Regions from separate parts of the Homo sapiens genome. Here region 1 is linked to region 2. The links come from fine-mapping of genetic effects on gene expression. A gene starts in region 2. The other region holds a variant in brackets. All regions are shown on one strand. Distances are between the middles of the regions.

The links.
Region 1: its variant is fine-mapped to the expression of NF1 in whole blood (TOPMed, PIP above 0.99).

The regions. Positions count from the first base shown.
Region 1 is chr17:31,435,931-31,452,338 of GRCh38, reverse strand. The region is part of intron 3 of RAB11FIP4 (RAB11 family interacting protein 4); the gene reads right to left. Among named protein-coding and RNA genes, the nearest start is that of RAB11FIP4, 52 kb to the right of the region's middle. RefSeq lists enhancers at 14,695-14,804, 16,240-16,408. The variant G/TG (reference allele first, on the strand shown) is at 7,983.
Region 2 is chr17:31,087,671-31,104,078 of GRCh38, reverse strand. NF1 (neurofibromin 1) reads right to left here and starts at 9,102. Exons shown (of 58, transcript NM_001042492.3): 1 at 8,710-9,102. The coding sequence starts at 8,769. MIR4733HG (MIR4733 host gene) reads left to right here and starts at 8,589. Exons shown (of 4, transcript NR_186435.1): 1 at 8,589-8,852; 2 at 10,588-10,706; 3 at 12,961-13,054; 4 at 13,144-13,337. It overlaps MIR4733 (microRNA 4733), which reads left to right and starts at 9,654; the gene lies at 9,654-9,729. LOC124903974 (a long non-coding RNA gene) reads right to left here and starts at 12,444. Exons shown (of 2, transcript XR_007065704.1): 1 at 12,372-12,444; 2 at 10,952-11,203. RefSeq lists silencers at 235-416, 8,698-8,747, 8,788-8,857, cis regulatory regions at 8,713-9,023, 9,250-9,489, an enhancer at 9,092-9,109 and a promoter at 9,097-9,522.

The DNA.
Region 1 (16,408 bases), 350 kb before region 2:
CCCATCCCTCCCTGACAAAGAGTCAACATTCCACATCTGAGATTCATCCATCTGCTTGTGCAACAAATCTGCACCAACAGCCTCTCTATGCCAGGCACTGTGCAGCAGTGAATGACACTGGCAAAGCCCTGGACCCACGGAGCTTACAGGCCAGTGGGGGATGACAGGACACACATAGATGATCAAGACTGTGCCAAACAAGATACAGTTGGAGAGAAGAAATAAGTTCTAGTATTTGCTAGTACAGCAGGGAAATTATAGTTAATAATTTCTTGTATCTTTCAAAAAGCTAGAAGAATTGTAATGTTCCCAACACAAAGACAAAGGTTTGAGGTAATGGATATCCCAGTTACCCTGATTTGATCATTACACAACATATGCAGTTATCGAAATATCACATGTATCCCAAAAACATGTATCACTATTACACAGCCATTAAAAAAACATGCAGCTAACAGTGGTGCATACTCAAGGAAATAAGCAGGGTGCTCTGGCAGTGATGGGGGCAGGGTGGGGAGGGAGTTTCTTGAGAGGGTGGTGGGGGAAGGCTTCTCTGAGGAGGTGACATTTGTGCTGAAACCTGAAGGGCACAAGGGCAGCTGTGCAAAGATTTGGGGGACAAGGGTTCTAGGTGAAGGGGAAGCCAGGCAAAGGCCCTGTGCAGAACTCGCTTGGGCAGTTTGAGGAACAGAAAACAGGTCAGGGTGGCTGAACAGTGAGAGTCACCGGGAATCTGGGAGGGGCAAGGTCAAAGATTCAGGCAAAAGTGAAACCTTCGAGGCCACAGTGGGAAGTCAGGGTTTTGGATTTTGTCACTGGAGGCTCTTATGCAAGGGAGAGGAGGATGGGACTTACAATTTTTTTTTTTTTTTTTTTTTTTGAGATGGAGTCTCGCTCTGTTGCCCAGGCTGGAGTGTAGTGGCGCCATCTCGGCTCACTGCAACCTCCGCCTCCCGGGTTTAAGTGATTCTTCTGCCTCAGCCTCCTGAGTAGCTGGGATTACAGGCGCCTGCCACCATGGCCAGCTAATTTTTGTATTCTTAGTAGAGACGGGGTTTCACCATGTTGGCCAAGCTGGTCTCGAACTCCTGACCTCAGGTGATCCACCTGCCTCAGCCTCCAAAAGTGCTGGGATTATAGGTGTGAGCCACCATGCCCAGCCACTAGGAGTTACAAGTTTTAAAGAACACTCCGGTGTCATATGGACCACAAAAAACAAGAGAGAATGCAGGCCATCGGGGCACAGGTACAGGGTGCGGCTCTGCTGGGACTGGGGTGTAACCTCCAAGGTGGAGGGAAGTGGATGGCTCGGGACATAGTTTGGAGGTAAAACCATTAGGCTGTGATGATGGGTTGGATGTGGAAGGAGGAAAGAAATTAAGGATGACTTGATCCTTGGTCAGAGTGACCAGGTAGGGGAGGTGGTGCCATTTACTGAGATGGGGAGCCTGGGGAAACATTCTTGGGGCTGAGGGGACGGAGCTGGATCAGATCAAAGGGTGTAGCCTGGAACATGGTGGAAATGCAGAGGGTGCGCCACAGGTTTGACAGAAGAGACTGGAGCCGAAGGCAATGTCGGAGGGGAAAATACTATCTTGGGAGCCCTCAGGGTAATGGTGCTTTTAGAGTTCTGGGACCAACCAGCTCCCCTGGGGAGTGGGCAGGCAGGAAGCATAGGGGTGAGGACGAGGCCTGAGACCCAGCGCCATTTAAAGGGACCCAGGAGGAGGGCGGGCAAGGCTGAGGTGGACAGATCACTTGAGGCCAGGAGATCGAGACCAGCCTGGGCAACATGGTGAAACCCCATCTCTACCAAAAATATGCAAATTAGCCGGGTGTGATGGCGCCGTCCTATAATCCCAGCTACTTGGGAGGCTGAGGCAGGAGAATCGCTTGAACCCCGGAGGCGGAGGTTGCAGTGAGCTGAGATCACGCCACTGCACTCCAACCTGGGTGACAGAGGGAGACTCTGTCTCAATAATAATAATAATAATAATAATAATAATAATAATAATAAAGCCGGTGGCGGGGGGGTGGTGTGCGGGGAGAAAAGCAGCCTGAGAGGTAGGAGGAAGGCTTGAGCTAAAAGGACGATCTGAGAAGGGAGAGGTTGGCTGTGCCAGGCCCTGCCCAGGGTTCCAGTAAAATGTGAATGGAGCAGAGGACACTAGAGGCTGAGAATGGCAGGGGAAGGAGAGTAGGGAGACGTTTGTTAAAAGTACAGAGTTACAGTTCTAGAGGAGGGATAAGTTCCATTGTTCTACATCACTGTAAGATGACTATCATTAACAATAATACAGAGTTTTCAGTAGCTAGGAGACTATCGAGTGTTCCCAAAATGAAGAAATGATAAATGCCGGAGATGGTGGATATGCTAATTACCCTGATCTATTCACCACACACCATCACTATGTAAAAATGTGACTAGAGAACTGATGCTTGGATTTGGCCAGTGAGAAGTTCCTGGTGGCCAGGCAAGGTGGCTCATGCCTGCCATACCAGCACTTTGGGGGTCTGAGATTGGAGGATTGCTTGAGGCCAGGAGTTTGAGGCTGCAGCAAACTAGGACTGCACTACTGCACTCCAGCCTGGGGAACAGAACAAGACCCCCATCTCTACAAAAAATAAAAATAGCTGGGGATGATGGCAGATGCCTGTGGTCCCAGCTACCTGGGAGACTGAGGTGGGAGGATTGCTTGAACCCAGGTGTTGGAGGCTGCAGTGAGTCAGGACTGCACCACTGCACTCCAGCCTGGGTGACAGAGTGAGACCCCTGTCTCAAAAAGAAGTCCCTGGTGACTGTGAGAAGTGTTTCAGCAGAACAGAGGGGCCAAGACATCATTGGGAGTGGCAACAGAGAGAAAGGGAGGCAAGAAAGGGAGTTGAGACCAGTCTTTGGAGGAAATAGACCAAAGGAAAGAAAGCCAGGATGTGTGGTCAAGCGGGTGCTTCCCTGCCCATGGGAAGGGCATTATTATGTCAGCTCCAGAAGCGAATGGAAAGGACCCAGCAGGGGCGTGGTGCGGGTGCTGTGGGTGAGGGGCTGTTTGTGAAGGCGAGTGCTTGAGTTGGCAGGAGGGGCTGGGATCCAGTGTTCAGGCGGTGTGCGGGTGAGGAGCTGGGATTGGAGGGCATGGCCTGTGTCAGAGCAGGGTCATGCCACTCACCATCCCAGCAGCAAGCTGAAAGTGTGGGTGCAGGTGGAGGCAGGCTGGTGACTTTGGGAATGGGAAGGGGAGGGAATTCTGTCCCCTGTGTCCTGAATGATTCCCCTGAGGGTTCTGAGTGGTACAGAGAATGCAGGCATAGGTACTACTGACTGGGGGACCTGTCTCCTCAGGAACCTTTAGAAACATTAATCCATTGCATTCTCACCACAACACTGAAAATCAGGCTGACGACTCTGATTTTAGATAGGCAGAAATGAAAAAGGCTCAGAGAGGTGAAGCGACTTGCCAAATGACACACAGAAAGTGGTCAAGCAGAACCCACACTCAGCCCGTTTGACTCAAACCTGAGCTCTTTCCAGGATTCTGAGCAACCTGGGTGAGAATTTGCAGTGTCTGGAGGATCTGGTCAGAAGGATTCTTACAGGTTCAGGGCAGCCCCAGACAAAGAGGGCTGGAATCAGGCCTCCTTGAGGCCAGCCTTGAGAGGAGGCAAAATTACATCATTCCTGGAGCCTGCCCATGGAGCTCATTCCAGGCCTCAGCCACGCGGGGTCAAATTTCCTCATTTCTCCCTCCCAGTGAAGACCTGTTTTGTTACTAAAATGAACACTGCATTTACTTTATTACAAGAAAACAGGGCTAGGAGAGGTTGCTCATGACTGTAATCCCAGTGCCTTGGGAGGCCCAGCTGGGAGACTTGCTTGAGGCCAGGAGTTTGAGACCATCCTGGGCAACATAGCTAGACCCGGTCTCTGCCAAAAAAAAAAAAAAAAAAATTAGCTGGATGTGGTGGTATGAGCCTGTGGTCCCAGCTACTGAGGAGGCTGAGGTGGGAGGATTGCTTGAGCCTGGGAGGTTGAGGCTGCAGTGACTGCACTCCAGCCTGAGTAACAGAGCAAGACTTTGTTTCTTAAAAAAAAGAAAAGGAAAACAAAATAGCAATAACAGTAATACCTTACATAAAGCGGCCCCACAGCAGAAGATGGACATGGGTCTACAGTAGAAGTGGGACTCGAAAGAGCAGCCTCTAAAGCAAAACAATTTAAAAAGTCTTTCCCGCAGGGCGCGGTGGCTTACACCTGTAATCCTAGCATTTTGGGAGGCCGAGACAGGTGGATCGCTTCAGCCCGGGAGCTCAAGACCAACCAGGGTAACATAGTGAGACCCTGTCTCTCCAAAAATCCAAAAATTAGCTGGGTGCATGCCTGTAGTCCCAGCTACTCAAGAGGCTGAGGCAGGAGGATTGCTTGAGCCTGGGAGGTGGAGGTTGCAGTGAGCTGAGATCGCGCCACTGCACTCCAACCCGGGTGCTAGAGTGAGATCCTGTCTCAAAAATAAAATACAGCAGTTGGGCGCGGTGGCTTGTGCCTGTAATCCCAGCAATTTGGGAGGTGGAGGTGGGCAGATCACCTGAGGTCAGGAGTTCGAGACCAGCCTGGCCAACATGGTGAAACCCCGTCTCTATTAAAAATACAAAAATTTGCTGGGCATGGGGGTGCGCGTGTGTAATCCCAGCTACTTGGGAGGCTGACACAGGAGAATCGCTTGAACCCGGGAGGCGGAGGTTGCAGTGAGCCAAGATCGTACTATTGCACTCCAGCCTGGGCAATGAGTGAAACTCCATCTCAAAAAAATAAATAAATAAAATAAAGTAAAATAAAATTGATAAAAGTCTTTCTCATTATCTTTATTTTACTTTATTTTTTGAGATGAGATCTTGCTCTGTTGCCCAGGCTGGAGTGCTGTCGCACAAACGGCTCACTGTAGCCTCAATCTCCTGGGCTTAAGCAATCCTCCTGCCTCAGCCTCCCAAGTAGCTGGGACACACAGGTGCTTGCCACCAAGCCCAGCTAATTTTTGTCTTGTTTTGTTTTGTTTTGTTTGAGACGGAGTCTCACGCTCTGTGGCCCAGGTTGGAGTGCAGTGGCACAATCTCGGCTCATTGCAAGCTCCACCTCCCGGGTTCACGCCATTCTCCTGCCTCAGCCTCCCGAGTAGCTGGGACTACAGGCGCCCACCACCACGCCCGGCTAATTTTTTGTATTTTTAGTGGAGACGGGGTTTCACCGTGTTAGCCAGGATGGTCTCGATCTCCTGACCTCGTGATCCGCCCGCCTTGGCCTCCCAAAGTACTGGGATTACAGGCGAGAGCCACGGCACCCGCCTGTCTTTTTTGTATTAATAGATATGGGGGTCTCACTTTGCTGTCCAAGCTGGTCTTGAACTCCTAGCCTCAAGGGATCCTCCAGCCTGGGCCTCTCAAAGTGCTGGGATTACAGGCTTCTTTCTTATCTTCAAAATATGTTTATTATGTTCCATGTTTGTTTTAATGTTGGACAATGTTTTCTCCAATTCTTCCAGGCAATCTGCTGCTCCAGGAAGATGCCCCCTGGTGTCCCAGCAAGTGGCTGGTATCTCCCTCGGGCACAGGTACCCGGAGAAGCACCGTCCAGTGTATCTTAGGGGCTTGGATTTCTTCCCCACATTATCTCAGATAATCCCCCCAAAGACGTGGGGGGGGTCTTTTCTAGTTTTCTCTTGAGATTGCCCCTCTCAGGAGACAAATACACCTACTCCAATGTCCTAATCTCAGCCCAAAGAGGATGGAGATGTGGCCTGGTCATGTATAAGAGCCCACACCTCCTAACACTGTACCCAGTGTACAGTGTTCATCGCACAGACGTTACCCATCGCACAGACGTTCAATGGCCCATGGCGTGTTCCTGGAGCCAGAAAGTACCAAGGCCGGCTGCCTCCCCACAATTTGAGAGATGCCAAGGGTGGACGCTCGGCCGCACACACACAATTAGGCATTTATTTTTCCCCAAATGCCAGAAGGGACAGAAGCTGCAAGGGGTGTTTAGATCATGTTTCAGCTGGGAAAACTGAGGCCCACTGAGTGGGTGCCAACAATATGCATTTTAAATGTGTTTTAGACTTGAAAAATAAACACAGTAGAACTCCCCTCCTGGCCCCCTCCTCGCCACACCATTTTATTTTTAATTTAAATTTAAGTTGCAGTACCCCAAAGGACCAGAAAATCAATAAAGGCAAATCTAAATTGAGGGGCATTCTTCGAAGCAAGTGGCCTGAAGTTTTTAAAAAGGTCAATGTCATTAGGAGTAAAAAAAAAGAAAAAAATAGAAAGAAAGAAAAGAAAAAAAAAGCCAAGGAACTCTTCTAGATTAAAGGAAACTAAAGAAACATGGCAACTAAACTACTGTGTGATCCTGTATTAGATTTGAGATAAAAATAAAAGCTATAAAAATATTATTGGGATGGCTGGGTGCGGTGGCTCACACCTGTAATCCCAGCACTTTGGGAGGCCGAGGTGGGTGGATCACGAGGTCAGGAGTTCAAGACCAGCCTGGCCAACATGGTAAAACCCAGTCTCTACTAAAAATACAAAAAAAAAATTAGCCGGGAGTGGTGGCATGCACCTGTAATCCCAGCTACTCGGGAGGCTGAGGCAGGAGAATCGTTTGAACCCAGGAGGCGGAGGTTGCGGTGAGCGGAGATCACGCCATTGCACTCCAGCCTGGGTGACAGAGCAAGACTCCGTGTCAAAAAAAAAAAAAAAAAAAAAAAAATATATATATATATATATATATATATATATATATATATATATATATAAAATTGGGAAAATTTGAATGTAGATTTTACAATAGGTAACAAATTGTGCCAATGTTAAGTTTCCTGCAAGTCATAACTATATTGTGGTCACATAGGAGAGTGTCCTTCTTAGGAATGGCCAAGTATTTAAGGATGAAGTGTCATGTCCGCAACTAACTTTCAAATGGTCCAGAAAAAAAGTAGTATGTATGCACATGCACCCCACCAACAAACACAGGGGCAGAGAAACTCAGTTTAGCAGCATGTTAACAGCTGTCATCCAAGCAAAGGATATATGTGGATTCATTGTTCTGCTCTTTTCTGAAGGTTGAAAATTTTCAAAATAAAAAGTTGGAGACCAAGTCAACTCTCTAGGTCTTTGTTTAGTAAAAGTGATCTACTCTTTATTCTTGCACCATCTGCAGCAGGAGCTTGGGCCCTCAGAGGTTTATAAACTGGATGGTGAGTTTAGAATCTCCACTGATATCCCAGTTCAGCCTCTGACACATGAAGCACCATAGGCCCTGCTAACCCAGAGTCCCCACTGGTTTCGACCGTGCTTTCTCGGAGAACATCTGCCCTCATGTGATTGTGTTTGTGTGTTTCCCACAGTTACTGTTTCAAAAATGCACTGCACTAGACTCATTAATGAGGGAAGCAGCAGGTAGGGATAACTCATCCAAAGGAGAAGGGGAGGGATCAAAGTCTATGTAATCAGGGAAAGAAAGGATGCTGAAATGAGACTGGAAAGGTATATACGAAGGTGGTTAATGTCCTACAGGTTCATAAAACCCAAATTTTTCCCTCCTGCTCAGCTTTAAAAAGACGGGATGTAAGGAGCCTCTCCAAGGTTTTGTCAAGCTCTAACTTGGTGAGTAGGTTCTAAAGATACATGTGGACTTGGGCGTCAGGGTTGGGTTAGGCAGGAGGTGGCCCGTGGGAAGTAGCACTTGCTGGCCAGCTCAGCTTAGCGTCTCTAGGGTAGGGATGGTCAGGGGTAGGAGGTAGAAGACACACGGTCCAGGGCAGACCAGGCTGAGGCAACGAACAAAAGGGGCTTCCATATCTGCACTGCTTCCATCCCCGCCACCTTTGGCTTAATCAGAGTTGAGTTATTTCCCAAAGACACAAATCGAGGATCTTACAGAAGCTCTGAGGCTTGGGATAAGTAGATTTTTTTTTCTCTTTAGAAGGGTG[G/TG]GGGGGGTGTTGAAACATAGAAAAATATATTGGGGCCAGATATAAGTAGAAAGGCTGCTTCCCTGGGCTCTGAAACTCCCTCCTGCCACCACACCAGTGGGAGCATGGCACCCCACCCACACCTCCACCAGCACAGTGAATCACAGTGCTGTTTGTCAGGAAAAGTATTTTTAGAACTTATAAGTGCCATTGTCATGAGTGGTTTTAGAAATGCTTGTTTCAGGATGGATGAAATGAAGCGAGGGTGGGCTTAGATGTTCAGGCTGTAGGCCTCCTCCCCAGCAAGTTCTAGAGAGAGGCACAGGTTATCATCATTTTAAAAACTTCCAGGAAGACAAGGGTTTGGCAAAGCCCCTTCTGAATATGAGCAAAAGAGCCAATTTGGGCTCAGGCTCAGGTCTGGGTTCCCAGCAAACCCCATTTCTTTTCTTCTTTTCTTTTTTAGATAGGGTCTTGCTCTGTTGCCCAGCCTGGAGTGCAGTGGCACAATCTCTGCTGGCTGCAACCTCTGCCTTCTGGGTTCAAGTGATTCTTGTGCCTCAGCCTCCCAAGTAGCTGGGATTACAGGCATGCCCCATCATGCCAGGCTAATTTTTTTCTTTTTTTTTCAGTAAAGATGGGGTTTCGCCATGTTGGCCAAGCTGGTCTTGAACTCCTGGCCTCAAGTGATCTGCCCACCTCGGCCTCTCAAAGTGCTGGGATTCCAGGCCTGAGCCACTGCACCGGGCAAACCTCACTTCCTTTGCCATCAGGGGACTGCGTGCGTAAGCATAGCCTAGCAAGAAGCTGCTGGTTCCAGCCAGGTGAGGGAGGGCAAGAGGAACTGACAGGAAAAAGGCAAACTGGATCCCTACCTCACTCTAGACATCAGTCAATTCTACGAATTAAAAATCAAATACACAAAAATAAAACAGAACAGTTTCACAATCTTGGGCGGGAAAGCATTTATAAGCATTACACCAAAGGCTGAAGCCATAAAGGAAAAGAATGATGAATTGGCTATAAAAATTTTTAAATTTGGTATCATGAACAAAGTTAAAAATAAATAACAAGCTGGAAAAAATTTAATGTATGTCAAAAAGTTATATTTCTGGTTCTTAAAAAATACTCAATAGAAGTAAACATAGCCAGGGTGGAGAATGTCGACAGGCAATTCATGAAGAACGCCCTCTTAGTGACCAAAAAATGTACTTTAAGAAGTTAAACTGTATTATAATTCAAAAGAGGGGTTCTAATTTTAGCCTCTCAAATTTAAAGGATCTGAAAACTCAGCAACACCAGTATCAAAAGGGTAGCAGGAATCTGACGCAATCCTGATGGGATTCCTGCAGAGGAATTTGGCAGATTAGTATTAGGCAGTTTTAATATTTTGCATCCTTTTCTTTTTTTTTTTTTTTGAGACAGAGTCTCACTCTGTTGCCCAGGCTGGAGTGCAATGGCACGATCTCAGCTCACTGCAACCTCCGCCTCTTGGGTTCAAGGGATTCTCCTGCCTCAGCCTCCCGAGAGGCTGGGATTACAGGCATGCGCTATCACGCCTGGCTAATTTTTGTATTTTTAGTAGAGACGGGGTTTCACCACGTTGGTCAGGCTGGTCTCAAACTCCTGACCTCAGGTGATCCACCTGCCTCCACTTCCCAAAGTGCTGGGATTACAGGCATGAGCCACCGCGCCCAGCCTTTGCATCCTTTTCATAAAACAGTTTCCACTTGCCTGAATTTACCGTCTGGGTTGGCAAATTTTTTCTGTAAAGGGCAGACAGTAAATATTCTAAGCTTTGCAGTCCATTTGGCCTCTGTGGCAGCTTTTCAGCTCTGCCACTGTAGTGTGAAAACAGCCACAGATAAGATGTGAACAAATGGGTGTGGCTGTGTTCCAGTAAAACTTTATTTACAATAACAAGCTCCTAGATTTGGCTCGTGGGGTCTGTAATTTGCCAACCTCTGATTTACTTTAAAGCAACGATTGCTGCTGTGGGGAAATACTTAGCTATAAGAATGATTATTACACTGCTTTTGTTCATTCCCCAAATTACGTTAAAAATATATATATACACCTGGCTGGGCATGGTGGCTCACGCCTGTAATCCCAGCACTTTGGGAGGCCGAGGCAGGTGGATCACGAGGTCAGGAGATCGAGACCATCCTGGCTAACAGAGTGAAACCCTGTCTCTACTAAAAATACAAAAAAATTAGCCAGGCGTGGTGGCGGGCACCTGTAGTCCCAGCTACTTGGGAGGCTGAGGCAGGAGAATGGCGTGAACCCAGGAGGCGGAGCTTGCGGTGAGCCGAGATTGCACCACTGCACTCCAGCCTGGGCGACAGAGTGAGACTCCGTCTCAAAAAAAAAAAAAGTGTATATACGCCCAACAATAAGAAACTGGTATATAAATTTGGTTGTCTTCATGTGATGAAATATCATGTTGCCATTTAAAATTTAAAATGGCAGCATGGCTACCTTGTTATATAGAATTAAGCATGATAGAAAATAGCATATAAATAAACTATTAAATATAAAGAGAGTTTAATGGGCCAGGCATGGTGGCTCACACCTCTAATCCTAGCACCTTGGGAAGCCAAAGCAGGCAGATCACCTGAGGTCAGGAGTTCGAGGCCAGCCTGGCCAACATAGTGAAACCCCGTCTCTACTAAAAATACAAAAATTAGCCAGGCATGGTCGTGGGCGCCTGTAATCTCAGCTACTCGAGAGGCTGAGGCAGGAGAATTGCTTGAACCCGGGAGGCAGAGATTGCAGTGAGCCGAGATCACACTGCTGCACTCCAGCCTGGGCAATAAGAGCAAGACCCTGTTTCAATAAATAAATAAATAAATAAATAAAATAAGGAGAGTTTAATAGGGTTATCATGACAAGATTAACACCAAAAATGAAAACCTATCCTATACATCAGTTGTAACCAGTTATAAAATATCATAGCAAAAAGATCCTACACATATCAGCACAAAAACTCCAAATATAGTCACCCTAAGAAGAAAGTGTGCATAACCTATTTAAGAAAATTATAAAACTTTCCGGCCAGATGCGGTGGCTCACACCTGTAATCCCAGCACTTTGGGAGGCCGAAGCAGGAGGATCACCTGAGGTCAGGAGTTTGAGACCAGCCTGGCCAACGTAGTAGAACCCCATCTCTACTGAAAATACAAAAAATTAGCCGGGCATGGTGGTGGGCACCTGTAGTCCCACCTACTAGGGAGGCTGAGGCAGGGGAATCGCTTGGACCTGGGAGGCAGAGGTTGCAGTGAGCAGAGATCCAGCCACTGCACTCCAGCCTGGGCAATAACAGCAAAACTCCATCTCAAAAAACCCAAAAAACCAAAAAAGAAAAACAACAGAAAACTTTCCTAGAGGGCATAAAAGGCCAGAATAAATGAAAAGATATATGCATTCCTGGATGACAGAATGCAATATTGTAAAGAAGCCAATTTCCTTCAATTAATGCACAAATTTAATTTCAAATATGATCTCCTACAGGATTTGCAATAGAGCTTGACAAAAAGGCTGTTCCAGAAAAGAAAATATGTAAGAATAACAAAAAAACAGTTTTTTTTATTTGTTTTTGTGTGTGTGTGTATGACAGAGTCTCACTTTGTCGCCAAGGCTTAAGCGCAATGGCGTGATCTCAGCTCACTGCAACCTCCGCCTCCCGGGTTCAAGTGATTCTCCTGCCTCAGCCTCCCAAGTAGCTGGGATTACAGACATGTGCCACCATGCCTGGTTAATTTTTGTATTTTTAGTAGAGATGGGGTTTCACCATGTTGGTCAGGCTGGTCTTGAACTCCTGACCTCGGGTGATCCACCTGCCTTGGCCTCCCAAAGTGCTGGGATTACAGGCATGAGCCACCGCACCTGGCCTTAAAGGTTAAAGAAACAAAGAAGGATGAGAGAGCCTTTCCCTATCAGATATCAAACTATAAACAAGAGTAACTGAAACTATGGTTTTGGCTTAAAAGTAGGTAGACAAACAGATCAATATAACAGACCAGAGTCCAGAAAGAGACCTACGTATATAAGGTAAGTTAGCATACAATAAAGATAAAATTTCAAATCAATTGAGAAAGAGGGACTATTCAACATTAGGAACTCAAAGTACTGGCCATATTGAGGAAGTAAGAGTGCCAGATCTCTACTCCCACCAAAAGCAAAAATAAGCTCCAGGTGGATAAAAGAGCTAAGCATAAATACTTCTTTTTCTCAAAAGTATCTGAAAACTATATATAGGAGAATATGTTTATAGCCTGGAGGTACAGAAGGCACAAAATGATACACAAAATGCAAATGGCATAAAAAGGTTGATAAATGATGACATCAGAATTAACATTCTGTGTAATAAAACACTCCTAAAACAAGATTAAAACACAAGCAAAATCCATAAAGATTGATAATCAGGATATATAGAGATTTCAACCTGTTGCTGTGGCTCACACCTGTAATCTCAGCACTTTGGGAGGCCGAGGTGGGCAGATCACCTGAGCACAGGAGTTCAAGACCAGCCTGAGCAACATGCAAAACCCTGTCTCTACCAAAAACAAAACAAACAAACAAACAAACAAAAAAACAAAAATTAGCTGGATGTGGTGGCGTGTGCCTGTGGTACCAGCTAATTGCGGGGCCGAGGCAGGTGGATCGCTTGAGCCCGGGAGGCAGAGGTTGCAGTGAGCTGAGATTGAGCCACTGCACTCCAGCCTGGGCAGTAGAGCGAGACTGCCTCAAAAAACAAACAAGCAAAAAACAGAATATACAGAGATTTCTTATAAATCAATAAGGAAAAGACAAACAACCATATCGAAAATGGGCAAAGAATATGAATAGCTAATTCGTAAAAGCAGAAATCCAGAGGGTATGGGAAGATAAGAAAAAGATGGTCCGCCTCCCTAGGAAGCTGGGCAGCACAGAGGACGGCAGCAATGGGCTTTCCTCCCCTCAGGCTGCTAGGCCGGAGACCAGCAGGTGGATGGATGGCTTCCGGGGTTGGCGAAGGCCATGGGGAAAGGGGCAATCTCATATAGTGCTTGGGTGATACAAATGGTACAGGCTTTGTGGAAGAAAATTTCATCCGTATCTGTTAAAAAACAAAATCTACATACCCTTTGACACAGCAATTCTGCTTCCAGATACCTAGTTCTAGAAATACTTAGAGACACACCCAAGGAGCATGGATAACGATGCTTGCTGTGGGTGCTGTCCTGGGGGTGAAAAGGAGGAGCTCAGCCTGAGCCCTGAAGCCACTGGGTGGACATGGGGCTGGCTGTCATGAAGGGTGAGGTTCAGGCAGTGGTAGAGGGTGAAGGGCCCCCAGGAAGCTCAGTGCAGGTCCTTCTCCTTTGGGCTGGGGCAGAAGGAGTCAGGGAGGCTTCCTGGAGGAGGCGGTACCTAAGTAAAAATTTTTTTTTTAAGAGAAGCAGTCTCACTATATTGTCCAGGCTGGTCTCAAACTCCTGGGCTCAAGTAATCCTCCCACCTCAGCCTCCCAAAGTGCTGGGATTACAGGCATGAGCCACCACTCCCGGCAAGTAAGTCTTAAAAAGGTGAGTAGACGTTAGCTCCTGACAAGGAAGCGGGAGGGAGGACATCCTAGGAGAAAGATAACACTCAGAGGCAAGAGAGAACATGGCTTTCTCAGGAAACGGGGAGCGGTTTGGTATCGCCAGTTTTAGGTGTGAGATGCACCATGGTGAGAGATGAGGCTAGAGTAGTGGGTAGGAGCTGATGTTGGTTTTCATCCCTTGGTAAGGACGGGTCCCAGGAGCGGGATGGGGGTGTGGAGAGAGGAAGGCTGAGGACAGGAGGACGCCCGGTCAGTGGGTGGCAGTGGCTGTGATGGAAGGGGGAGGCAGGGGTGAGTGGGGAACAGAGGACTCAAGGCAGCTGCATGAGGAGGCGCTGAGGATGACTCTCTGGGTTGGAGGCTACTGACACCATTTGCTGGCGTGGTGGCTACACAGGAGGGGCAGGTGGCTGGATGCCCTCTCCATTTCATCCACCATAGGGTGGATGAACAGGGCCCAGGGCCTTACAGCACTTGTAGGATTAGGGTTCACATTACTGCCTGCTGAGGGGTGACCACGGGCCCCTAGCAACTATCCCATTGCCTTTAGCACCCGAGTGTCGGGCTCTCCACGTGTCTCCATGCCCCCTCCCCACGGGGGCCCCTATAGCATATGGACTGGGGGCTGATGGGCAGCCTGAGCAGGACAGTCTCAGAGGGACTCCCAGGGCGATTCCAGGGACCCCATGCATGGACCCAGGGAACCTGGGGAGTCCTTCAGGACACACCTAACATTCCCTTTGACCAGAAGCAAATTTCCCTGGGTCAGGAAACTCTCTCAACAGCCTGCTCAACAGTTGGGGTTCCCAAGCCTCAAAGTTTCCCTCTGCCAGGGTCTCGCAGGGCTCTGGGGACGCAGGTGGAGCCACATCCAGTAAGGTCAGGAACTGGTGCATCCAGGCATCAACTGCCCGGGATAGACTTGCACTGGCCTGAGGTCTGGACAGCAACCCCAGGGGCCCCTGCTTGATGCCCAACGCTAGAGGCTTCTCGGGGCCTGGGAGGGGGTCAAGAAGGGCAGGGTGCTCTCAGGGGCCAGGTGGCAGCTGCTGGCCCACCAGCCAGCACTCAAGCATTCACTGCTTTAATTACGAGCCACATCCAGTGGTTAAGTCAGAGGTCTCCGTCCACACCCTGAGGGGAGGGGGCTGTGCCCGAAAAACAAGCTTCACCTCCCAACATACACGCATGGCACAGGGATGGAGCGCCTGCCATCCCATCTGTGTGTCATCCCCACACCTCCTCAAATCATGCCTCAGGTTTGCGTTCCCTGGGGGCATCTGGGAAGCCTACGTAGTGATCCAGGCACCCGCTTCTTCTCAGTCTCAGACTGACCCCTAGGGGACAGCTAAGACACAGCAGGGCGCAGAGAGCCGGGCCTGAGAAATTCGGACCTGCCCAGTCCAGCCCACTCTGACACCTCATCTGCAGAGCTGTGGTCTTGACCTTGCTATTACAGGAGCCTAAGCCAGGAAGAGGACTCATTCACAATCCAGAAGCCGTCTGCCCCGTCAGGCTGGTCTTCGGATTGTGCCCCCTTCCTCTCCCTGCCAACACGCAGAAGCCCATGGTAGGGAATGGAGTCCAGGTCAACCAAGCAGCCCCAGCGAGCATAATGAACAAGGCTGCCACTGTGTCCACAGCTACCGCCATCTCACTAGGCTCTGGCCAACCAAGCCGGGGCCAGACCTCCATGGAGGGCAGAAAGGAGTTCACCCACGAGAAGCTTAAAATCCAAAGCATTGGGAGGCCGAGGCGGGTGGATCATGAGGTCAGGAGATCGAGACCATCCTGGCTAACATGGTGAAACCCCATCTCTACTAAAAATACAAAAAAAAATTAGCTGGGCATGGTGGCGGGCACCTGTAGTCCCAGCTACTCAGGAGGCTGAGGCAGGAGAATGGCATGAACCCGGGAGGCGGAGCTTGCAGTGAACCGAGATTGCACCACTGCACTCCAGCCTGGGCGATAGAGCAAGATGCCGTCTCAAAAAACAAAAAAAACAAAAAAAACAAAAAACAAAAAAAAACAAAAAAAAAACAAAAAACAAAACCCAAAGCAACAAAAACCTATAGGATTGCAAAGTCCCATGAAGAAACAAGGAGAAGCACCAGGCTTGCTGAGATAGGCTGACGCGGTCTTTCTTTCTGCTTTCCCATAACCTCTAGACTTTGGAGGAAAGCAATATCGGTTTACAAAAAAGAGTACCTTGGTGGAGGCCCACTCTTCTGCACCCCCTGCTCATCTTTTCTCCATGTGCCACCTTTTCCAGAGGTGTGAATGGCAGAATGTGGGGGCCACAAAAGCAGCCAAAGACTACAGGGAACACGTCACCCCTACCCCAACTCCCACCCCCTCTCCCCAGGCCTCGGCTCCACTCTGCCCTCCAGTTCCTGGGGCAGGGCTTTACTTTAACATAATTTTGCAACACCAGTATCCGAGGGTAAACTGAAAAATGCAAATGGTAACTTCAGCACCATTTTCTTACAGCAGCAGGCGGCGAGGAATTAGCACGTATTAGGGGTCTGTCTTCCCACTGAACTTTCACAACAGACCCTCCAGATTGGCACAGCAAGCCTTGTTTTACAGTTGAGGACACTGACGCTCAGCGGGGTTGAGAAGAACGTGCTCAGGTTCCATGGCCTGTCCTGGGTGGCCCACGTGGGTATGGACCCAGTCCTGCACACCTCTGCACGCTGCCTCCTGCTCAGCAATCCAGGAAGGGCCCCCCCAGCAAAGTTCCTGGGGCACTCAGTATTTGTCCCACAGTGGAGGTCCTCTTTCCTAATCCTGGTTCCATTAGCTGGCCCCAAATACATATTCAACCCCTGCTTGCTGGACCCATCAAGACAGGCCTGGAGCC
Region 2 (16,408 bases):
CCGGTACCCAAATAAAAAACGAAAAACAAAAATACTTTCTCCATATTAAAAAAAAAAATTTTTTTTGAGACAGGGTCTCACCCAGGCCAGAGTGCAGTGGTGCAATCATGCCTCACTGCAGCCTTAATTTCCTGGGCTCAAGCAATCCTGACTCAGCCTCCCAAGTAGCATATACTACCACACTTGGCTAATTTGTCTGTTTTTTTTCTTTTCTTTACTTTCAACCAATGCACACTGGCTGATTTTTTTTTTATTTGTTTTTTTTACTTTTTGTAGAGATGGGGTCTCACTCTGTTGCCCAGGCTGGTCTCAAACTCTGAGGCCCAAGTGATCCTCCCACCTCAGCCCCCCAAAAAGCTTGAATTATAGGCATGAGCCACCGCACCCAGCCAAAACATTTTTTAAAAGCAGACTTAAGGCCAGGTGCAGTGGCTTGCATCTGTAATCCCAGCACTTTGGGAGGCTGAGGCAGGTGTTTGAGGCCAGCCTGGCCAACATGGCAAAACCCCGTCTATAGTAAAAATACAAAAATAGGGCCAGGCACGGTGGTTCAAGCCTGTGATCCCAGCACTTTGGGAGGCTGAAGCGGGCGGATCACCTCAGGTCAGGAGTTCAAGACCAGCCTAGCCAACATGGTAAAACCCTGCCTCTACTAAAAATACAAAAAAATTAGCTGGGTGTGGTGGCACACGCCTGTAATCCCAGCTACTTGGGAGGCTGAGGCAGGAGAATCACTTGAACCCGGGAGGCAGAGGTTGCAGTGAGCCAAAATTGTACCACTACACTCCAGCCTAGGCGAGAAAGCGAGAACTTGTCTCAAAATAATAATAATAATAAAGCAGATTTGAGAAAAGAATCTAATTTCCTAATGGTTAAAAAGTCAAATAAAAAGAGTAGGGCAAAAAACAGGAACATTTAAAATAAAATGTAACAATATTAGACCAGCACCACAGCTTATGCCTATAATCCCAGCACTTTGGGAGGCTGAGGCAGGTGGATTGTTTGAGGTCAGTAGTTTGAGACCAGCTAACATGGCGAACCCTTGTCTCTTTTAAAAATACAAAAATTAGCCAGGTGTGGTAGTACGTGCCTGTAATGCCAGCTACTTGGGAGGCTGAGGCAGGAGAATCGCTTGAACCCAGAAGGTGGAGCTTGCAGTGAGCTGAGATCGTGCCACTGCACTCCAACCTGGGCAATAGAGCGAGACTCTATCTCAAAAAAAAAAAAATGAAGAAGAAGAAAAAAGAGAACTTGTCAATGGATACTAAAGTAAGGTATATATTGGCCAAGGTACATACAAAGGAATATCCAGAGACTAGTCACGCTCTCTTTTTTTTTTTTTGGAAGACAGGGTCTCACTCTGTCACCGAAGCTGGAGTACAGTGGCACAATCATGGCTCACTGTATGCTTGAACTCCTGGGTTCAAGTGATCTTCCTGCCTCAGCCTCCTGAGTAGCTGCGACTACAGGCACATGCCACCACACCCAACTAATTTTTTTTAGAGACAGCATCTCACTATGTTGCACAGCCTGGTCTTGAATTCAAGGCCTCAAGCAGTCCTCCCACATGGGCCTCCCAAAGTGCTGGGATTACAAGCATCAGCTACCGCACCTGGCCTACTCTCCCTTATTTAATGAAAACACAATAATCAGTAATAAGCTACACTGCACTCTAGCCTGAGTGACAGAGCAAGACTCTGTCACACACACAAAAAATAATAATAATAATAAGCTATAAAGAAAACATATAAATCTTATATTAGAAAAATTTTAGACTTTTCAAAGTGCTTCACATTCATATTCTATCACACCATTGCAAAATATCCTAACAGTAAGTGACAAATCCAAAATTACAAAAGTAGTTGATCAGATCTGAAACCTGATTCAAAAAACATGTTTGCTCTATGGGAGGAAATATAAATATGTATAAATTCCTTCTTTATGCTAATTTTCTTACTCATTCCTAGTTAAAATATCACTTATCAGACCTAGGCTATTGCAAACATGGAAGTAAAATTCAGTAAAACAAAGCCAAAAGTACCACTTTTTTTATTTAGCCAGTCTACCCTTCAACCAGGAATCATATGAAAAACATTCCATCAATGTTCTGTGTGTTTAAGACTGTGCTGGGCACTGGGGTGACTAGAAGAGAATTCAAATAGCGTTCTTTGCTTTTCAGAAAGTATGCACTCCATTTGATAAAAAGACAAGAAAAAAAGAAAACAAAGCCAAGCTGTGTTCAAACAATCCTCCTAAAGGAAGAAAACTTACTGTGTGGTTCTGTAAAACTCCAGGTAACAAGGATACCAAGAAGTGAGATAGCAGAGTTTAGTCTGAAACAACCTCATGGGGAAAAAAAAAAAATGAAATCTGAGCTGAACATTGAAGGATGGACAGGAATTAGAAAAGCACAAAGGAGGAATTAAAGCATTCAGGCAGAGACTGGCAGAAATAAAGGCCAAGAAGTGGGAAGAAGCATGATACACACAGAAGAGACTGAGGTGACCTGCCTGGAACATAGGTGCATGCAGAGGCATAATGGGAAAGAGTTTGGTAAATCAAGTGGGGTCAGCTCCCAATAGACTGCTGGGTCACAGAGACATGCTGTTAGAATATTAAAATCATCGAATATTTAAACTTGAAAGAATCTAAAAGATTTTCTAGCCATTTCTTTTTCAACAGATGAGGAAATCAAGGATCTATAGGAAAGCTAATGGCTAGGATAGGGACAAAGGCACTGAATAGCAGAACAAAACTAAGACCCCCGCTAAGGAACTCCAATTCAGTAGAAAAGTATTGTGTCTTGGGAACTGGAAGAGATTGGTTTCCGGGGGGAGTGGAACATCACAGTGGCATTACAACTAAGCAATGACCACTATGTTTTGCCAGAAGTAATCACTTTCAAGAAAACAGCAATCAAGCAGAGGCAGGAGCTACTTTTCAGAGTTATAAAGGAAATGGGTGGATAAACAGTAGAGGCGGTGAGTATCTGGCAACAACAACAACAAAAAAGACTGGTCCACAGAGAGAGAGCTGCAGGACCAAGTAAACGTCTGATTTCCAAGAGAAAGGAAATCTTAGCCTGAAAAGTGAAAAGAAAGCAGCCAACATAAAGACTAAATTAGTTCCCAGACAGATAAGGTGGAAAGTGTAAGGGAGTGCAGAGAACTGAGGAACAGCTGGAAGAAATCTTTCTAAAGGATGAATTCCGGGCCGGGCACGGTGGCTCATGCCTGTAATCCCAGCACTTTGGGAAGTCAAGGCAGGTGGATCACGACATCAAGAAATTCAGACCCATCCTGGCTAGCACGGTGAAACCCTGTCTCTACTAAAAATACAAAATTAGCTGGGCGTGGTGGCATGCGCCTGTAGTCCCAGCTACTTGGGAGGCTGAGGCAGGAGAATCGCTTGAACCCAGGAGGCAGACGTTGCAGTGAGCTGAGATCGCGCCACTGCACTCCAGCCTGGGCGACAGAGTGAGACTCCATCTCAAAATAAATAAATAAATAAAAATTTAAAATAACAATAATAATAAATTAAAAAATTCCGAAGCAAAGAATAAGCATTATTGTGCTCGATTCAGCACCACATATACTAAAATTGGAAGAATAAGCATTATTTCTCACTCACCATAAAGAATTCGTCACCATAAAAGAGTACTCATTTTCAACTACTATAAGGCCTTATAAAAATTACACACCAGGCTTGAAGAATGAGGCTAGGAGATATTTTTTAAATCCAAAAAGCTTCAGTTTTGCAAATCTATTTGTCTAATCAGTATGTGGTTTGTAATTTCGAAGATACTTGCCAATCATTTTATACTGTGAATCACTCACCGCATATTCAACGTACATTCAGATGAACACTCAATGTATGAGAACAACAAATATGCTACTACAACCTCTAAAATCAGAGTTTATTCCATAACATATTCTTTAAATTGGGTTTTTTGGCTTTTATGTACTACTTTTGCTTGATCAGATATGGAAAATATAATTGCTTTAAATGAACATATTTACAACAAATCATTTTGGGATGGAGTTCTTTTTAATTCTTTTTTTTTTTTTTTTAGTTCAAATATCCATAGTTTTCCCATACTTCCCTTCAGAAATAAAGCTCTACAGGAACCAGTGGGGCATACAGAACTAGGGGAGATACACAGAAGGTTCTAATTTGCTTAGAAACTGGGTTAATGAACCACAATTAAAAGCTACACATGGCCGGGCGTGGTGGCTCACGCCTGTAATCCCAGCACTTTGGGAGGCCAAGGCAGGTGGATCACCTGAAGCCAGGAGTTGGAGACCAGCCTGGCCAACACGGTGAAACCCCCGTCTCTACTAAAAATACAAAAATTAGGCAGGCGTGGTGGTGGGCGCCTGTAATCCCAGCTACTTGGGAGGCTGAGGCAGGAGAATGGCTTGAACCCAGGAGGCAGAGGTTGCAGTATGCTGAGATCTCCCCATTGCACTCCAGCCTAGGAGACAAGAGCGAAACTCTGTCTCAAAAAAAAAAAAAAAAAAGCTACACACCTACAATTTGTCAGTTTCAATTAGAAACTTGCTATTTGGCACCACGAAGGCAGGTTAAGGAGAGATGTAAGATTTAACTGATAACATTCAGCTTTCTGGCTGTCCACCTGTGCAACTGTCATTTCCCTAACCAAGGAGGTGATTACTTCTAAAATTGGTAATACTCATTCAACTTAGACCCTAAATACTAGGTTTAGCTGCAATATTATCAGGTTAAGGAATTTTATATTACCCACAAGAATGTGAGCTCAAAATGTCAATATGGCACACATCCACTTCTTTTAACTGAGTCTACTGCACTAAGTTGCTAAGCGATACCCATCAGAGTGCAATATGTCTGTAATCAGCAGTGGCTAGAAATGCATTTCTGCTTTAATCACACCGAATATTAGAAATCCAACCAAAACAGCAATCATAAACAGAGTTGCCATCTTTAGACATGCACATGCTCCCTGGGGGCGTTAAGTGGTCCAACAGGCAAACTCTTAGCTGTAATAAGAAGGAAAGCTTAACTCCCCCTGGGCCCAGTAAAGCAAAGTACAGATAATATAATCCAAAATTCAAAAGTTTTATAAACAGTTGAAACTATTAAGATTCTTTTTTTTTTTTTTTTTTTCTGAGATGGAGTCTCGCTCTGTCACCCAGGCTGGAGTGCAGTGGCGCAATCTCGGCTCACCGCAAGCTCCACCTCCCAGGTTCAGGCCATTCTCCTGCCTCAGCCTCCCAAGTAGCTGGGACTACAGGCACCCACCACCACACCCAGCTAATTTTTGTATTTTTAGTAGAGATGGGGTTTCACTGTGTTAGCCAGGATGGTCTCGATCTCCTGACCTCATGATCGGCCCGCCTCGGCCTCCCAAAGTGCTGGGATCACAGGCGTGAGCCGCCGCGCCCGGCCAACTCTTAAGATTCTTATACAACTATCTCTCAGTACATGCAGGGCTTTTTCTCCCCTCAATAAAAATGTAAGCGATGGCTCACGCCTGTAATCTCAGCACTCTACTAAAAATAACAAATGTTATCCAGGAGTGGTGGCAGGCGCCTGTAATCCCAGCCACTTGGGAGGCTGAGGCAGGAGAATCACTTGAACCCAGGAGGCAGAGGTTGCAGTAAGCCAAGGTCGCATCATTGCACTCCAGCCTAGGCAAGAATCATGAAACTCCGTCTCAAAAATAAAAAAAATAAAATAAAGTCTTCTAAATATATTTAATGGATTAGAACAAATTTTATGGGATACTTAGGAAAAGTATCTCCCTGATGGTCAAGCATTCACTACTTTTCATACTGAAGCTCTTATTAGATCTATGTCACTTAACCTTCCCATGCCTCAGTTTTCTGACTAAAAGACATTTTCAACCGTAAGGTGAACTCTAATTTGAATTAAACATTTATCACTTATATAATAAATTAATATATTAATTTATTTTATATATATACTATATATAATATATATAAGTACCTTATGTTAAACACTGAAAACCCTTACATTTTTGTATCTCAAGGTCAGAGACTTTAACTTTCTAAGAGAAAAATGTGAGGAATAGGCCAGGCACAGTGGCTCATGCCTGTAATCCCAGCACTTCGGGAGGCCGAGCAGGGGGTGGGGGGCAGATCACCTGAGGTCAGGAGTTCAAGACCAGCCTGACCAACATGGTGAAACCCCCGTCTCTACTAAAAATACAAAAATTAGCCAGGCACGATGGTGCACACCTGTAATCCCAGCTACTTGGGAGACTGAAGCAGGAGAATCACGTGAATGTGGGAAGCAGGGGTTGCAATGAACCGACATCAAGCTACTGCACTCCAGCGTGGGCGACAGAGCAAGACCTTGTCTCAAAAAAAAAAAGTGAGGAATAATCTCTCCTATATATCTTTCTCTTAATTACAACATAAGGAATGCAGAAAAATGCTGTTTTAAAAACTAATGTCCTTAATTTTTAACAGATGGTGGTGAGTTTGATTCCACAATATGCATAACAAACAACGAAGCCTTAAGGTCTTTTAAAGCTAGGGACAGAAGGAGAAACACTTTCTTGCTTTACTGGGTATATAATCAAAATCATTCCTCCTTTTTTTTTTTTTTTTTTTTTGGAGACAAGAGTCTCGCTCTGTCGCCCAGGCTAGAGTGCAGTGGTGTGATCTCAGCTCACTGCAACCTCCACCTCCCGGATTCAAGCAATTCTCCTGCCTCAGCCTCCCGAGTAGCTGGGATTACAGGCGCCCGCCACCATGCCCAGCTAATTTTTGTATTTTTAGTAGAGACGAGGTTTCTCCATGTTGGTCAGGCTGGTCTCAAACTCCTGACCTCAGGTGATCCACCTGCCTTGGCATCCCAAAGTGCTGGGATTACAGGCGTGAGCCACCGCGCCCAGCCCAAAATCATTCCTCTCTTAAGTATCTTTTTCCAATATGGCAAATAAGCCTAGAGATGAACAGGTAAGAAGTAAAAAAATAAAATTAAGAAAAAACTGAAAAAAATTTTTAATTTTTAAAATTTAAGGAGAATTGCGGCGTGGATCCTTCAATTTCCTACATCCAGATTCTGCTGTCCACAAGGTTCAGCTTTGGAAGTCTTCTATGTGCCTTTTAAATCCTTTCTTAAAATTACAGAGTCTTTTCTACCAAGTTTTAAATCTAACGCTCTATCAATAATGTAATCTTTTATATGCAGTAACATTATACTTCAGATGGATTAGTAGTTTAGTTTAGATGCCTTTGGGTCTGGAAGCATACGAATGGATAAAACAATTCCTTCAAGTCTCTGACAGCTTCATAACTCTATTTTATCTACATAGCTTCTTCTCAACTTCCTCTGTCTATTCCAAGATATTTTCCAGGTAGGTCTGAAACGCTGAGTCCCGTAAAGAAATGTTTATGCATCAAATAACAGAAGAGCTCTTCCCCCACCCCTTCAGCTCCCATAATGTTTTACCATTATATCCAGTAAACAAAATAGGTTGACTCAATCTTAAACAATTCCCCCATCACAGGAAGCCCACTGCACCCACAGCTGCAGAAAGCATCCCTTAAACCATCCCCAACTACCTACAGCAACACAAAGTTAAACCAATTTCCACTGACAAAAGGCTATGTGTGCATTTATTCTAATCAGCCCCAGGATTTATTGTGTGAAACTCAGGCGATAAAAAGTCACCTCCTCAAGCTACAAAACTTTTTTTTCATCCCAAATATTCTCAATGAAAGTTCTCTTGTCAACCAGGAGAGAGTCAAAAACAACCACAAACACTAGCAGAATGATCCGCTCCAGGACCACATCCCAGCTGGCTTTGCTCTGTTGTCGGTGGCTCTGAAGCAGTTTCTCACTTTCCTTTCACCCTTCTCCCCTTTACTCCCCAACATTCTCACTCGAGAATGCATCACATCCTCAGACCGCTGGCAAAAAAAAAAGGGGGGGGGGAAGAGACTGCAATTATCAAGGAAGGGGAAGATATTTCAGAACCACGGTTTCCACTGCAAACGGCAATAAAAAAAAAAGGCAGTCTGTGTCATCAGGATATGGGGGACGACGTTGTAGGGCATCACAAAGATGTGCAGTGAGTGTGCACTTGAAGCTCTCGGGGCAGGATGAGACGATGGAGCAGAAAGTAAGAAAACCTGTGCCTTCCTTGCTTTCTTCTGCTCTTCCCCCTCCAGGAGAGGAAGCTGAAGAAACTGGGGGAGGGGCGGAATGTTATCGTTCTCCTATTGAGGGTATATAAGACAGGCCTTAGGGTTCGCTCGTCCCCAGTTAGGAGGGTCACGGAGGGAAGAGGAAGAGAGAACCCCTAAACGTTACCCACCTCTGCTCAAAAACAAAAGTAAGGGGGTAATTATTAAATCCAGATGGCGCGCCCCTAAAGGCGCCCCCAGGTCACTCATCCCCATTTCCAAGCGGAAGGGCTGGGATAAAGGGGATGGAGGGTCGGAGGCTGGTCAGGGACAAGGCCCCACCCCCCGACTTAGGAGGGAAAGGGTGCCCAAGCTCCCAGCTGTCCCCTCCTACCCCTCACCTCCCGCCTTGGCCACCCCCACTTATCCCCCCTTCCCTTCTCTTCCCTTCCCTTCCTTTCCTCCAGAGCCTGAGGCAGCCGCGGGGGAGGCGGCCGCTCCTACCTCCCCTCACCTACTCTGTCCCCACCCCCACTCCGCTCCCACCTCCCGCCCGCCACGGGCCGGTTACCTGCTCGTCGAAGCGGCTGACCACGGCCTGGACCCATTCCACCGGCCTGTGCGCGGCCATGTCCTCCCCGCGGCCGGGGGGCGGCGGAGGGAAGGGTGGGCCGGCGCCCTGGGCCGGGAAGAGGGCGGGGAGCGGAGGCTGAGGTGAGGGAAGAGGCAAGGAGAGGGTCTGTGGAGTGCAGGCTCCCAGTGTTCCCACGGGGGTGGGGATGGGGGGTCAGCGCCGAGCGGGAGGGGGAGAGGGAAAGGGGGCGTTGGCAAGGAGGCTGGGGGGAGGGGGATAGGGGAAGGGGACCCGGGGAGGGGAGGGGGCCTCTTGGTCGCTCTCCCCACTAGCGCCGTCTCCCCACAGCCATCACAGTCCGAGACGCCGCCATGACACCCCACCGGAAGTGGGATCCTTTCCACGGCCCGGGGAGAGGGAGCGCGAGCGAGCTAGAGATTGAGAGCGCGGCTGGGAAAGGGGAGGGGGAAGCGAGAGGGAAGGCGGCCTGCCGCGCATGCGCCCGCGCCGGCCGGTTTCATTAATGAAAAAGCGAGTCCTCCTGGAGGTGACGTCATCTAACTCCTCTGGGCCGTCTGGCGAGCGTCCCTCACCGCCGTGGGGCTCACCTAGACTGGCGCTGGGCTCAGCTGGCGAGTGCCAGAGCTGACCCGGGAGCATCCACTCCCATCCCCACCGCCCCCTACAGCTGTCCCCTCCCCCGCCGGCCTCCGGGTTTGGATTGCTCCCGGAGTTGGAAGTTAGGGCGCCCTGGGGCTAGCCTTTCTCCCAGCGCGCGGATCTCTGCCGCTAATCTCCTGGGGAGGCTGTGCTCTCAGCTTAAGCTCTCAGAAAAAATAAGGTACACGACCTCCGATTTTCAGGTTCTTCGTAGCTTGGTAGACTGCTGAGAAACAAAAAAGGAAGGCCAAAGAGAGATTCCGTGATTTTTTTTTTTTAGAGGTCGCTTAAATCCCAATGCTAGACCCGGTGGCAATCAAGGTCTAGCCACCAGGTCTAGCATTGGGATTTAAGCCCAGCTTTCCTCTGCAAAACTCATAGCCATCCAAGTTAATATAACTATTGCACAGTTGATGAGAGATTCAAGTTTCACCACCCTCAAAACACCTTTAAGGCCTTGCATTCATTATTAATTCAATATATTCATCGTCTTATTTAAATCCTTGAACAAACCTTTTCAATACATATCATTAACTTCATGAACTGATGAATACGTCACGTCCCCACCCCCGTGGGAACGCTGGGAGCCTGCACTCCTCCCTCAGACCTTTGATTTGCCCAAGGTCTGAGTTGACAGGTGGCAAAGTCAGGATGTAAACCAACGTGGTTTAACTCCTAGAACAATAGAGGTAGACTATGGGTCTCCTAAAACAAAGTCCTTCCCTATACCTCCAATACCAGAGTTGAAAGGATTTCATGTGTAATTGGGTTGTGCCAGTTTTCCAGGAAGAGGATTACATCCAAAACAACGGATAATCTATGTCTGACATTGGACTTTGGAATGACTAATTTTTTTTTTTTTTTTTTAAGACAGAGTCTCACCCTGTCACCCAGGCTGGAGTGCAGAGGCGCGATCTCGGCTCACTGCAACCTCCGCCTCCCGGTTGAAGTGATTCTTCTGCCTCAGCCTCCCGAGTAGCTGGGACTACAGGCATGCGCCACCACAGCCGGCTAATTTTTGTATTTTTAGTAGAGACGGTGTTTCACCATATTGGCCAGGCTGGTCTTGAACTCCTGACCTCATGATCCGCCCACCTCAGCCTCCCAAAGTACTGGGATTACAGGTGTGAGCCACCGCACCTGGCCTGGAATGAGTAATTTTAAAATTTGTCTTCCTCGATACATTTTACCTAGGCAAATGTTTTTGTTTTTCAGAGACAAGGTCTGACTCTGTGCAGTGGAGTGCAGTGGCTCAATCATAGCTCACTCCAGCCTCAGACTCCTGGGCCGAAGTGATCCTCCCACCTCAAGCTCCTGAATAGCTGGGACTACAGGTGAGTGTCACCCTGCTTTGGCTAATTTTTTTTTTTTTTTTTTTTTTGGTAGAGACACAGTCTTGCTATGTTGCCCAGGCTGGTCTGGAACTCCTGGCCTCAAGTGATCCCCCTGCCTTGGCCTCCCAAAGTGCTGGGATGACAGGGGTGAGCTACCACACAGGCCCCTAGGCCAATGTTAAAATGAATTTACACATTCCAAGCACGCGCTAATCAGCCAGTTAAGCCACACAGACACTGGGTGATAAGGGAGAACAAAACTAGAATTTTAATTTTCCTACAGAAAAGCCACAAAGCCAGTAGCCCACATACAGAGAGATATATCCTTGAGAAAAGTTTCCAATCTCTAGGTTGGTGGTTGTCCAAAATACATATTAAATTAATGTTTTATTCCACTAGAACAGACAGACAGTTTGGACATGTCTTTTGTCCCTTCTTCTTTAAGGATGCAATGCAGATACTAATTTCTTTTAGATGATGTCAGAATGATGACTATGCTGGAAAGAAATGGATGAATATTAAATGAATGTCTATCTATGTTTCTCCCAAGTAGGACCCCTGAAAAAGCACTCACTCATACCCCCAAGATAGTATTCCAGTGCCCCCTACTGCACTGCTAAACTTCAGACCTATGACCTTCCTCTCCTTTTCTCATACTTCCTCTGAAAGTCCCTAACTACTTCCTTGTTGCCATGGCTTTTTGCCTGTCTATCTCCCTGATCTTCTTCCCTACACTGGATGCAACTGCCCAAACCCTCAGCTCCCTTGCCTTCCCTGGCATTCCGTTGCTGAAGTTCCTCTGTGCCTTTCTCTCCTCTTCTTCTCTAGTTTAGTCTACCATTGCCCACTCTTCTTTAGCTCTGTGGTAAGACACCCAAACTTCAGGCCCTGGCCCTCTGCTCTTCTTCCTTTACTCAAGCTCCTGCCAGCATGTCATTAATTCATCCTAATTTGTACTCCCTGTTCTGTTGCCTCCCCTCAGTGCCAAACCTCTCATTATAGTCAGAGGCCTAGACTTCACCCCAACTTCCTCTCCAATTAAATTCATTCAGTTCTGCTGAACCAGTATTAAGTGTCCAAATGGGCCGGTCGTGGTGGCTCACACCTATAATGCCAGCACTTTTAGAGGCCGAGGTGGGAGGATTGCTTGAGCCTAGAAGTTCAGACCAGCCTGGGCAACATAGTGAGATCCCAGCTTCTACCAAAAAAAATTATTTAAATTAGTTAGGCATAGTGGTGTGCATCTGTGGTCCCAGCAACTTGGGAGGCTGAGGTGGGAGGATCACTTGAGCTAGAGAGGTCAAGGCTGCAGTGAGCTGTGATCTCGCCACTGCACTCCAGCCTAGGCAACAGAGCAAGACCCTGTCTCTAAAAAATAAATAAAAATAAAAGTACCCAAATGCCTGTTATGTATTATGTACTTTGTTAGACCATACATAGTACATATGGCAGGAATGCTAAACAAAAGTGCCAAAGAAGACTGGACGCTGTGGCTCATGCCTGTAATCCCAGCACTTTGGGAGGCCGAGGCAGGCAGATCACCTGAGGTCAGGAGTTTGAGACCAGCCTGGCCAATGTGGTGAAACTCCATCTCTACTAAAAAAAAAAAAAAAAAAAAAAAAAAGCCGGGCATGGTGGCACATGGCTGTAATCCCAACTACTTACTAGGGTGACTGAGGCAGGAGAATTGCTTGAACCCAGGAGGCTGAGGTTTCAGTGAGCCTAGATTGTGCTGCTGCAATCCAGCCTGGGCGACAGAGTGACTCCATCTCAAAAAAAAAATGCCAAAGAAGGTAATGCATAGAGACTGTGGTGAATTAAGAAGCATATACCCACCTCCATTTATCCAGATAAGAGATACTCTCTCCATTTAAAGAGTATCTGTCACTCAACTCCAGTTACTGCCATGCAGGAATGTTGACCCAGTGTTGCTAGATCTTCTAGTTACTCAAGAGAAGCTAGAGATCTGAACTTACATATAAACTCTTCCAATTTTTACATAGTGGCAGCCAATTTACATTTTTTAAATGCTGTGTAGCCAAACAAAATACGTCTGCTGTCTGAATGTAGCCCATGGAACACCAGTTTGACCAGCACTAGTCTAGTGAAAAGGCATGAGCCTTACAGTAGAACAGAATTAGATTTGTATCCTAACTTCCCCCATTTTGCACTGTCCAACAGTATTCAGGGAACCCTTAGTGTTTCGTATTGTTTTAAATGCATCTCTCTCATTCAGCCTCTGTTTTTTGGTCAGGCAACAAGCTCTGCCAATTTTTTCTTCGAAGAGTTTTGTTCCAAGCTGGGAGCCGTGGCTCATGCCTGTCATCCCAGCACTTTGGGAGGCCAAGGTGGGTGGATCACTTGAGCCCAGGAGTTCCAGACCACCCTGGGCAACATGGCGAAACCTCATCTCTACAAAATTTTTTTTTTTAATTAGCTGGGCATGGTGGCATGTGCCTGTGGTTCCAGTTACTTGGGAAGCTGAAGTGGGAGGATCGCTTGAGCCCAGGAGGTCAAGGCTACAGTGAGCTGTGATGGTGTCATTGCATTCCAGCACTCCAGCCCGGGCATCAGAGTTAGACCTTGTCTTAAAAAATAAATAAATGAATAAATATAAATAAAAAATAAAAAGCTTTTACAGTAGTATTCCCTTCATTCTGCCCACCACCCCCATCTCCACTGGCACAACCAACCATCCCAGCATACCAAAGAGCACACCACTCTTCAGGACTAAGGTGCTCATTTCCTCAGCTGCTGGGCGCATTACTTGTCAACACCTATCAGCTAAATCCCTTTCCAGGAGTTGCCTTCAGCTGAAGAAAGCTGCCTCTCACCAGGTCCGTCTGCACTGACTGGCAGATGCAGGGCTCAGGGTGGGGCTGCTCTGAAGGGCTCTCCTGGCACCAGAGCTCCCTTAGGATCCGGAAGCTGAGGCATTTGCTGTAACTACATTTAGTTCAACTTTTTCTGCTCAATCCTACTCCTTTCCTGCACGGTGTTGATTCCAAGGGCAATTAAATCCATGAGTGTGGCCGGACACCATGGCTCAGACCTGTAATCCCAGCACTTTAGGAGCTGAGGCAGGTGGATCGCGTGAGCCCAAGAGTTCAAGACCAGCCTGACCAACATGGTAAAATCGTATCTTTACAAAAAATAAAAAAATTTGCTGGACATGGCGGTGAGCAGCTGTCATCTCAGCTACTCAGGAGGCTGAAGCTGGAGGATTGCTTGATCCCAGGAGGTAGAGGCTGCAGTGAGCCATGTTTGTACCACTGCACTCCAGGCTGGGTGACAGAGCAAGACCCTGTCTCAAAACAAACGGACAAAAACGTCCCATGAATGTGGTTTGATCCAGTGGAGCTGAATCATTCCCCTGGCCAGTTAGCAGTAAGGTCCACAGGGGAAGCCCTGACAGGCCCCGGCGTGCCATAGCAGTACGATGTTAAAACTTTCAGCAATGGTGAAGAGCTGGAATGGGTGGGATGTAACCTCAGTGGAACAATGCACTCGTAGGTGCAATCTATCAGGCATTTTAACAATATAGGGCAAATAGTAGTTTAAGAACAATGAAATTGGATGGCTACTGATGGAGTAAACCTGTGCTTTGGAGAAAGACAATGAAAGGTTGAGGATGATGAATCACCAATTAAAGGCTAAGGAAGAAAGCCAGTGTGCCTCCTTAGCAGCATATAAAGGAAGTAGGAGCTGCATAAGGCAGAAAAAGCGGAAGATGAAGCTCAGGATTTAATTATAAGAGCAGAAGAACGCCAAAAAGGTTTTCAGCCCTAGTGAGTGTACTATACCAAGGTCAGGGGCATAGTTGAGAAGTGGGACCCTGACACTTTAGATGGGGCATCTGGGTCAATGCACTTGAGAACCTTAAAACCCCACATCACCTTGAGTGCTCTGGGTTTGTAGAAGTGTCCCACTCCTCCCTCAAGAAACTAGCACCCCACCCCCTTGCTTGAAGATCAAGAAGTATTATCTGCCTTGCAAGGCAACACACGCTCTCCTCAGATCTACCTGCACTTTTCCACCTGTCTAACAGACCAATAACTAAGGTCAAGTCACACATAACCCCATTAAGAAAATGCTAGACCTGCTAAGGGAGGAGAGGCACTGTATCCTGAAGGAGCTAAAAAACCTACCCAACTTAGGCCGGGTGCGGTGGCTCATGCCTATAATCCCAACACTTTGGGAGACCGAGGTGGGTGGATCACAAGGTCAGGAGATCGAGACCATCCTGGCTAACATGGTGAAACCCTGTCTCTACTAAAAATAAAAAAATAAAAAATTAGCCGGGTGTGATGGCGGGCGCCTGTAGTCCCAGCTACTCTGGAGGCTGAGGCAGGAGAATGGTGTGAACCCAGGAGGCGGGCCTTGCAGTGAGCCGAGATCGGGCCACTGCACTCCAGCCTGGGTGACAGAGAGAGACTCCTCTGAAAAAAAACCTACCCAACTTATATACACATCTGCAGAAGGTGGGAGAACTGGGTAAAGGGTCCCCAGTGTGCTGAATTGGGGAGGGAGGAGAAAATAATGCTAAATAAAGCAGAGCATATTGATATAAGCACATTCCTGTACTACAGTATTTACATTCTGGCAAGGACTCCAGGAGATAAAGCTAACAGATTGCTAGGATGGCTCTAGAAAGCTTGGAGAAAGCAGTGGTCCACACTAAGCAAAATAGAAAGGCCAGAGCTGTCCTGGCAAACAATGGAAGAAGGGAGCAAAAGACTCAGAAGTGGGAATGACATATTATTTACATCCTATCCTGTCAGCTGTGTTCTGCTGTTTATCACAAGCAATAAGGAATGTGCTATTGAGAGGGACACAAGCATCACTGAGAAGTCCAATAGTCACTTTTCTCTGTAGACCAGGGCTTATAGTGGAAGATGTTTCAGGAGCTAGGGTCCCTGATAGCAATGGGCCTGCTAGAGACCAGGTAGCAGTGCATAACTAGCAGAAGATTAAGTGGCATTGTTAGAAGTGGCAAGATAGAATGGCATCCAAGGAAGCCTGACCCACAGGAAGCTATGAAGGTAGTTAGTAGGATACTGTGTGCCTCAAGATGTAGTTTTTAAAACACAAGGACAGATAAGGAGGCAGCTGAGAGGAGCTGCCCCAATAGTCATAATCCCTTGCCCTGTTTCTCAACCTGAGCCAATTTCCAGAACCTAATGACTGAGGAAGACCGGATTCCCAGCAAGGGTATATAGTGATGAGTCCTTGTCCTCTCTGAATGGGTACTTAGCATGGGCATACTTGGTGGTTGGCAGAACCTCTATGATAGTTCCTTGGCCTGTGGAGCAAGAGCTGTCATAGTGGGGAAGGCCAAGGCCATACCTGGGGAAGCTTCTAAAACTGCACCCCTCTCACCCAGCCAACAGTCGACATTTTTAAAAAGTGGCATACCCTGGGGGAACATCAGAGAAAAGGATGCAAATACAGAGTAGCAGGGCTCCCACTCAACAAGGCTGATCCAGCTGCTGATGCCACCAAATGCCCAACCTGCCAGCAACAGCACAGATCTTTTGTCATTTACTCTTTATTCTTTTTCCTGCTGAGAACGTAGATCAAAGCCTAGAAGTGAAGCAGCTATTTTGCAAAAGATGGAAGCTAAAGGAAGCTTGGGTCCCTGATACTTCTTCAAGCAGCTGTACCTGCCCTGAACTGCCTACCTCCAGAGTTCTGGTTACAGA